2 linked regions of the Homo sapiens genome follow. The protein of the gene in region 1 interacts with the protein of each later gene in a pairwise test. Each region holds a gene or a part of one and is shown in the gene's direction. Other genes may lie near its edges.

Region 1 (3,776 bases):
GGACCGTGGGATGCAGCCCATAGGCCCAGGCCTGCCTTGAGGCTGGGAGGAGATAGGTGGTTACCCCAAAGGGCAGCTGCAGATCGGATCCCGGGAGCTGAGATGAATTCAGCCTGGGCCCAGGAAGGCCTCCCGAGGGGTGGTTTTGCGGGTGGAGAGTTAGCCAAGACGTGGAGGGTCAGGGTGCTGGAGAGAGAAGCCTGTTTCAAGGTGGGTGGCTGCTTGTGGTGTGTGCAGTCATACTGGGTGGGGTCCGCAGAGAAACAGCAGGGCAGGGGCAGGGCCCAAAGGCCCCTGTAGAGTTTTCTGGGCCTAGGTCTGAGTCACTGGGTGGTGGGTGGCCGTGAAGGGCTTTCAGCTGGGCCTGCGCTGAGCTCCCACTGTGCCCACGTGCAGAGAGGATTCGGGGTCTTGAGAGTGGCCTGGAGGCTGGGGGGCAAGGTGGGGGGAAGCTGCAGTTGCCCTGGATGATGCTGATGTCTTGGGCTGAGTGGAGAGCGAGGGCGGGGGGTGGGGGACAGTTTTAGAGGTGGAGGTGGGTATTTGGAGGGATTTGGGAGAGGGGGCCAGGGGTCAAGTTTGGGCAGCTGGAGGTGGAGGGCCTGGCACTGAGCAGCTGCAGGGAAGGGGGGATGGAGGCTGCAGGGGTGCCTGTGGTGGGGGTGGGGGTAGGAGAGACAGGGAAAAACAGCCCTGGTCTGAGGCTGCAGGTCTGGGAGCCCAGGGGAAGTGGCGTGGCCAGGGTGGAGGGTGGTGGCAGAGGGTGGGTGTAATGGAACCACAGGCTGTTCTGGGTGTTGAGGACACAGATAGGGTGGCCCATTGCTGGCTGCTCCCTTGGTCAATGTGAGCTGGGGCAGGGGTTGTGGACCACAGAGGGACATGCACAGGCACACTGCAGAGGGCCTTGTGGCTGCCTCAGAGGGGACCCTGAGCCAGGCTCAAGGAGAGGGGCTTTCCTGAGGTGCTGAGCAGTCCCAGGCCAGGCCTCGGTGCTTTCTAGGGGCCAGAGACCTTGTCTGGATCTGGGAAACCTGGGTTGGGGGTGCAGACAGGGTTGGCCAGGGGCTCAGTGATGACACTGTCCATCCAGCGGTGACGGAGGCCCTGCGGGCGCCAGGCAAGGTCCCCAACTGCAGCGGAACCAGAAACCTGCACGACAACCTGTCGGACCTCCGTGCCCAGGTGGCAGCCAACCAGAAGGGCATCCAGCTGGTGGGGGAGCTCATTGGGCAGTACGGCCTGGACGTGGTGCAGGCCTACATGGGCCATATTCAGGTGGGCCTGGGCACAGGAGTGTGGGCGGCAGGGCCATCCTGCAGGTGACCTGGCCACCACTGATCCTGCTCCCTGCCAGGCAAACGCTGAGCTGGCCGTGCGAGACATGTTGCGTGCCTTTGGAACCTCCCGGCAGGCCCGGGGCCTGCCCCTGGAGGTGTCCTCGGAAGACCACATGGACGACGGTTCCCCCATCCGCCTCCGTGTGCAGATCAGCCTGAGTCAGGTGGGCCGTGGGGAGAGTGCCTCTAGGCGGCAGGGGCACGGTGCGGCCGCTGACAGCCTCTCCCTTCCCTCGGGGCGCGCAGGGCAGCGCCGTGTTTGACTTCAGCGGCACTGGGCCGGAGGTGTTTGGTAATCTCAACGCACCGCGGGCCGTAACCCTGTCCGCCCTCATCTACTGCCTGCGCTGTCTGGTGGGCCGCGACATCCCACTCAACCAGGTTCGCAGGGGTGTGTGCGCGAGGGGGGGCCCCAGCCCGAGGTCACCCTGAGTGCGCCTCCTGGGCCCAGCCACGGTCTGACCCCACGGGTGCTGGGGCGGGGGGTGGGGTGCTGTTTCTCCCGGAGCCCACCCCAAGAGCTCCTGAGAGCCGCCCGCCCCGCACAGGGCTGCCTGGCGCCAGTGCGCGTGGTCATTCCCCGAGGCTCCATCCTGGACCCGTCGCCCGAGGCGGCGGTGGTGGGCGGCAACGTGCTCACGTCGCAGCGCGTGGTGGATGTCATCCTGGGGGCCTTTGGGGCCTGCGCCGCCTCCCAGGTGCGGGGGCGGGGTGGGCGCAGCTCGGGGGCGGACTGGGTGGGCAGGCTGGAGTAGGAGCGGGAGGGCGAGGTGGGGACGCCCTGCCCCAGCCCAGCGCAGCGACCAGGTGCCCTCACCAGGGCTGCATGAACAACGTGACCCTGGGCAACGCCCACATGGGCTACTACGAGACGGTGGCGGGCGGCGCGGGCGCGGGTCCCAGCTGGCACGGGCGCAGCGGTGTGCACAGCCACATGACCAACACACGCATCACCGACCCTGAGATCCTGGAGAGCCGGTGAGCGGCGTGCGCGGAGGCTGGGGGCACGGCCGGGTGGGAGCCGGGGCTCGGGCCACGCTGAGTCTTTGCCCTCGTCCTCGCCCTCGCAGGTACCCGGTCATCCTGCGCCGCTTCGAGCTGCGGCGGGGCTCGGGGGGCAGAGGCCGCTTCCGAGGCGGCGACGGCGTCACCCGCGAGCTGCTCTTTCGTGAGGAGGCGCTGCTGTCAGTGCTGACCGAGCGCCGCGCCTTCCGGCCATACGGGCTCCACGGTGCGCGGTTCCCCAGCCCTCGCGGCCCTCCCCGCCCCCGCCCCCACCCCCGCCCCTGGTCTCTCTGGACTCCTCGCCTCCCTCCGCAGGGGGCGAGCCTGGCGCCCGCGGCCTAAACCTGCTGATCCGCAAAAACGGCCGGACGGTGAATCTGGGCGGCAAGACGTCGGTGACCGTGTACCCCGGGGTAAGGGCCGCGGCCTGTCCTGTCCCCCTCCCCTCCCCTCCCCTCCCGGCCCCATCCCACAGAGGGGGAACAGTTGCAGACCTGACCAGAGGCCGAGTTTAATTTGGCCCCGGAAGGAAAGGGGGCGCGTACCGGGCCTCCGTGGTCCATGGGGGCGGGTGATGGACGCTGCCCGGTGGGGAGGGGACTGCGCAGGTGACAGGGAGGGGCCACGCCTGCACTGAGCCCGCCTCCCCGCCCCCCCCCGCGCCAACAGGATGTGTTCTGTCTCCACACGCCCGGCGGCGGTGGCTATGGGGACCCGGAGGACCCCGCCCCACCGCCGGGGTCGCCCCCGCAAGCACTGGCCTTTCCCGAGCACGGCAGCGTCTATGAGTATCGCCGGGCCCAGGAGGCCGTGTGAGGATCCCGCAATAAAGATGCCTTAAGTCTCCCGGTTCTGGGGACGCAGCTACGGCGCCTAGTTCGTGCTCCGAGTCGTGTCTGTGCGCGCCAGCCGCGCGCCCCTCATCTGTGCTTGCCTTAGGAGGACACTGAGACTCGGAGCTGCAGGCGCACTGCCCGGTGGTCCGTGAGCCCCTCCAGGGCGGTACTGAACGTCACCTGCTCCACCTCCTGGGGGCGGGAGTCAGGTTGAGGGTCGTCCCAGTGCCGCAGGCCCAGCCACCCGGGAACTCCGCGGTACGTGATGTAGTCCAGGCGCCGACCTCTCCAGGGCTTAGCTCGGCGGCTTCTGCCGGGAAGGCCGGCCAGGTAGAGGTGGCGCCCTTTCTCCTGCTCCAGGGCCCTGGTAGGGGGGCGGTGTCATCAAGGCCAGGGCCCCTCCGCGCGCTTCGGGCGGGCAGTGCCTACATCCAGGTCGCAACTCACCGCCTCGGCATCTTGGGGGAGGAGGCCATGGACTGGTGGAGCACGGAGGTGCTCAGCGCGGTCCCTGGGGGATCCGGGGGAGGGCGGCATCAGCCAGAGCCTCAGCCGACGGCGCTCCCCAGGTCCACTTCCCGCTCCGATACCCTCC
Region 2 (3,812 bases), on another chromosome or scaffold:
TCCATGGTATATATACCATATTTTCTTTATTCAATAATCCATTGATGGACACTTAGGTTGATTCCATTCATTATCGCTATTGTCAATAGTGCTGCGGTAAATGTACAAGTGTAGGTGTCTTTTTGATATAATGCTTACTTTTTCTTAAGGTAGATACCAGTAGTGGGACTGCTGGATCAAAGGGCGGTTCTATTTTTAGTTTTTTAAGAAAGCTCCATATTGTTTTCCATAGAGGTTGTACTAATTTACATTTCCATCAACAGTGTATAAGTGTTCCCTTTTCTCTGTATCCTTGCCAACATCAGTTGTTTTTTGACTTTTTAATAACAGCCATTTTGACTGGTGTAAGATGGTATCGCATTGTTTTAATTTGAAGTTCTCTGATGATTAGTAATGTTGAGTATTTATGGGCCAGTTGTATGTCTTCTTTTGAAAAATGTCTGTTCATGTCCTTTGCCCACTTCTTAATGGGATTATTTGTGGATTTTTTTCTTGTTAAGTTCCTAGTAGATTCTGAATATTAGTCCTTTGTCAGATGCATAGTTTGCAGATATTTTCTCCCATTCTGTAAGTTGTCTGTTTATTCTCTTGATTATTTCTTTTGCTATGCTTAAGCTTTTAAGTCCCATTTGTCTATTTTAGGGCTTTGTTGCATTTGCTTTTGAGGACTTAGTCATAAATTTTTTGCCTAGGCCATTGTCCGGAAGGGGTTTTCCTAGGTTTTCTTCTAGAATTTTTATAGTTTCAGGTCTTAGCCTTTAATCCATCTTGAGTTATTTTTTGTATATGATGAAAGATATGGGTTCAGTTTTATTCTTCTGCATATGGCTGTCAAGTTTTATCAGCACCATTTATTAAATAGGGTGTCCTTTCCCCAGTGTCTATTTTTGTCAATTTCATCAAAGATCAGTAGTTTGTAGGTATGTGGCTTTATTGCTGGGTTCTCTATTCTGTTCCATTGATCTGTGTGTCTGTTTTTATACCAGTACATGTTGTTTTGGTTACCATAGCCTTATAGTATCAACATTAATCAGTTATTAAAGAATAGGAACTGGGTTGTCTAGAATCTTAACCATAGTGTTCTTACATACAGTTTAATTACCATGGAGAGTCTAATAATTTGCCTGTTCAATAAGGTCCTCTGTCAGTGCTTTTGATACAGATTTTAGTTTTCTAAAATTTGCCTGAATTTAAAAAATTTTGAATCTAGTTTTAGCCTTTTGTATTTTAACTAGAAATAGATAAAGTGCAGATAATACTCAAGTATTTTGAGATGATAGAACATCATTATGTCATTTGCATCTTTATTGAAAAGTATCTTTTAGTGCTTATTTATACGTTGGTTATTTTATAATTCCTGCAATAAAATGCAGCAATGGTATATTTAGAAAATACTTCTGAAAGACTTTCTATTTCTTTTTATCTAATTTAGAGTTCATTGTCGAAATGCTGGACCTGTAGCTGTAGCTGAGAAGAGCATTACCCAGGTTGCAGAGAAATTCATATTAAGAGGTTATTGTCCAGATTGCAATCAAGTCTTTGTGGATGAAACCAGCACCCAAAATCATAAGCAGAATTCAGGACACAAAGTCCGAGTCATTAACTCAGTGGAAGAATCAGTCTTACTCTATTGCCACAGCAGCGAAGGGAACAAGGATCCTTCTTCTGACTTGCATTTATTGTTGGATCAATCAAAATTTTCATCACTTAAAAGAACCATGTCTATTAAAGAATCTAGCTCACTGGAGTGCATTGCCATTCCAAAAAAGAAGATGAATTTAAAAGATAAAAGCCATGAAGGTGTTGCTTGTGTCCAGAAAGAAAAATCAGTAGTTAAAACCTGGTTCTGTGAATGCAATCAGCGATTCCCAAGTGAAGATGCAGTAGAAAAGCATGTTTTCTCAGCAAACACAATGGGTTATAAATGTGTGGTCTGTGGAAAGGTATGTGATGATTCAGGGGTCATTCGTTTACACATGAGCCGGATTCACGGAGGGGCACATTTAAATAACTTTCTTTTCTGGTGTCGGACATGCAAAAAGGAGTTAACAAGGAAAGATACTATCATGGCACATGTGACTGAATTTCATAATGGACACAGATATTTTTATGAGATGGATGAGGTAGAAGGTGAAACTTTGCCATCATCCTCTACAACATTGGATAATTTGACTGCTAACAAGCCTTCATCAGCTATTACTGTTATTGATCATTCCCCGGCAAATAGTTCTCCGAGGGGTAAATGGCAATGCCGGATTTGTGAAGATATGTTTGATTCCCAGGAATATGTAAAACAGCACTGCATGTCTTTGGCAAGCCACAAGTTTCATAGATACAGCTGTGCTCACTGCAGAAAGCCTTTTCATAAGATAGAAACATTGTACCGACATTGCCAAGATGAGCATGACAATGAGATAAAGATTAAATACTTCTGTGGGCTTTGTGATCTTATCTTTAATGTGGAAGAAGCATTTCTGAGTCATTATGAGGAGCACCACAGCATAGATTATGTATTTGTGTCAGAAAAAACTGAAACTTCAATTAAAACCGAAGATGATTTTCCAGTAATAGAGACCAGTAACCAGTTAACTTGTGGTTGCCGTGAGAGTTACATCTGTAAAGTCAACAGAAAAGAAGATTATAGCAGATGTCTCCAAATCATGCTGGATAAAGGAAAACTGTGGTTTCGCTGCAGTTTATGTTCGGCAACAGCACAGAATTTAACCGACATGAACACTCATATCCATCAAGTGCACAAAGAAAAGAGTGATGAGGAGGAGCAGCAGTATGTAATCAAGTGTGGCACCTGCACCAAAGCATTTCATGATCCTGAGAGTGCACAGCAGCATTTCCATAGAAAACATTGCTTCTTACAGAAACCCAGTGTGGCTCATTTTGGATCTGAAAAATCAAACCTGTACAAGTTTACTGCTAGTGCCTCACATACAGAGAGAAAACTGAAACAGGCAATAAACTATTCAAAAAGTTTAGACATGGAGAAAGGAGTTGAGAATGACCTAAGCTATCAGAATATAGGTATGGCTTTATAGCTCTATGCAAATTTCATATACTGATATTGAAACTTACAATGTACCCACCTCGATTCAATTTTGAAGCAAGAAACAGGGTAACTTCTTGATGGTATGTTAATTATTATGGTATATACATTTTAGGGGTTTGTATTCCTACTACTACATTTATCCACTTTCTAAACTTACGAGGACAGAGTATATGTTGGCTTTAAATAATATATATTTTAGATATCATTTTATTTTACAAAAGGTGTGGAGATTTTGAAGATGAAGGAAGTTGATAGTTTTTCTGAAAGTTAGATTTCAAAGTTATCCTAGTATTAATATCATTTAGATTTTTCTTGTAATATTTGGGTTAACTAAAAAGATAAATCACGTGAATTCTTTTTGTTTCTATTTGGCCATATTCTTTAGTGTGAGACATTTTAAAGGTCATTTCAGCATTTGTATATTTTTGTTATGATTAACTTGGAAGAAAAGCTTTAACATACAATTAAAATAGCAATTAGAAGTAGAGTTAAAGTGGTAGCAGGAAACCAGGGGGAAAATTGAAATATGAATTCCTTGTTTGTACTTACTCCAGACTTTCTTTCTTCCATATGATAGGATTAAGTAAGTCTAGGCAGGTGTTATGTTTTTATTTTGTTTAGAAGTATAATTTGTTTTGTTTAGAAGTATAATTTGTTTTTGTTTAGAGTATAATTTTAAGTGTATCTTCTTTTATTTGTAAAATTTTTTTGAGATGGGATTTTACTATGTTGCCCAGGCTGGTTTTGAACT

Evidence for each region.
Region 2: the proteins of OPLAH (region 1) and ZNF451 interact in a two-hybrid assay, tested with the Homo sapiens proteins (one large-scale study listed by BioGRID).

What each region holds. Positions count from the first base shown.
Region 1 is NC_000008.11:144,050,711-144,054,486, reverse strand, and holds the end of OPLAH (5-oxoprolinase), read left to right. Parts: intron 1-1,093; coding exon 1,094-1,278; intron 1,279-1,357; coding exon 1,358-1,504; intron 1,505-1,586; coding exon 1,587-1,721; intron 1,722-1,888; coding exon 1,889-2,038; intron 2,039-2,160; coding exon 2,161-2,318; intron 2,319-2,410; coding exon 2,411-2,571; intron 2,572-2,660; coding exon 2,661-2,758; intron 2,759-3,014; coding exon 3,015-3,161; 3' UTR 3,162-3,221; downstream 3,222-3,776. UniProt on the Homo sapiens protein: Catalyzes the cleavage of 5-oxo-L-proline to form L-glutamate coupled to the hydrolysis of ATP to ADP and inorganic phosphate.
Region 2 is NC_000006.12:57,145,658-57,149,469, forward strand, and holds part of ZNF451 (E3 SUMO-protein ligase ZNF451), read left to right. Parts: intron 1-1,432; coding exon 1,433-3,036; intron 3,037-3,812. UniProt on the Homo sapiens protein: E3 SUMO-protein ligase; has a preference for SUMO2 and SUMO3 and facilitates UBE2I/UBC9-mediated sumoylation of target proteins. Plays a role in protein SUMO2 modification in response to stress caused by DNA damage and by proteasome inhibitors (in vitro).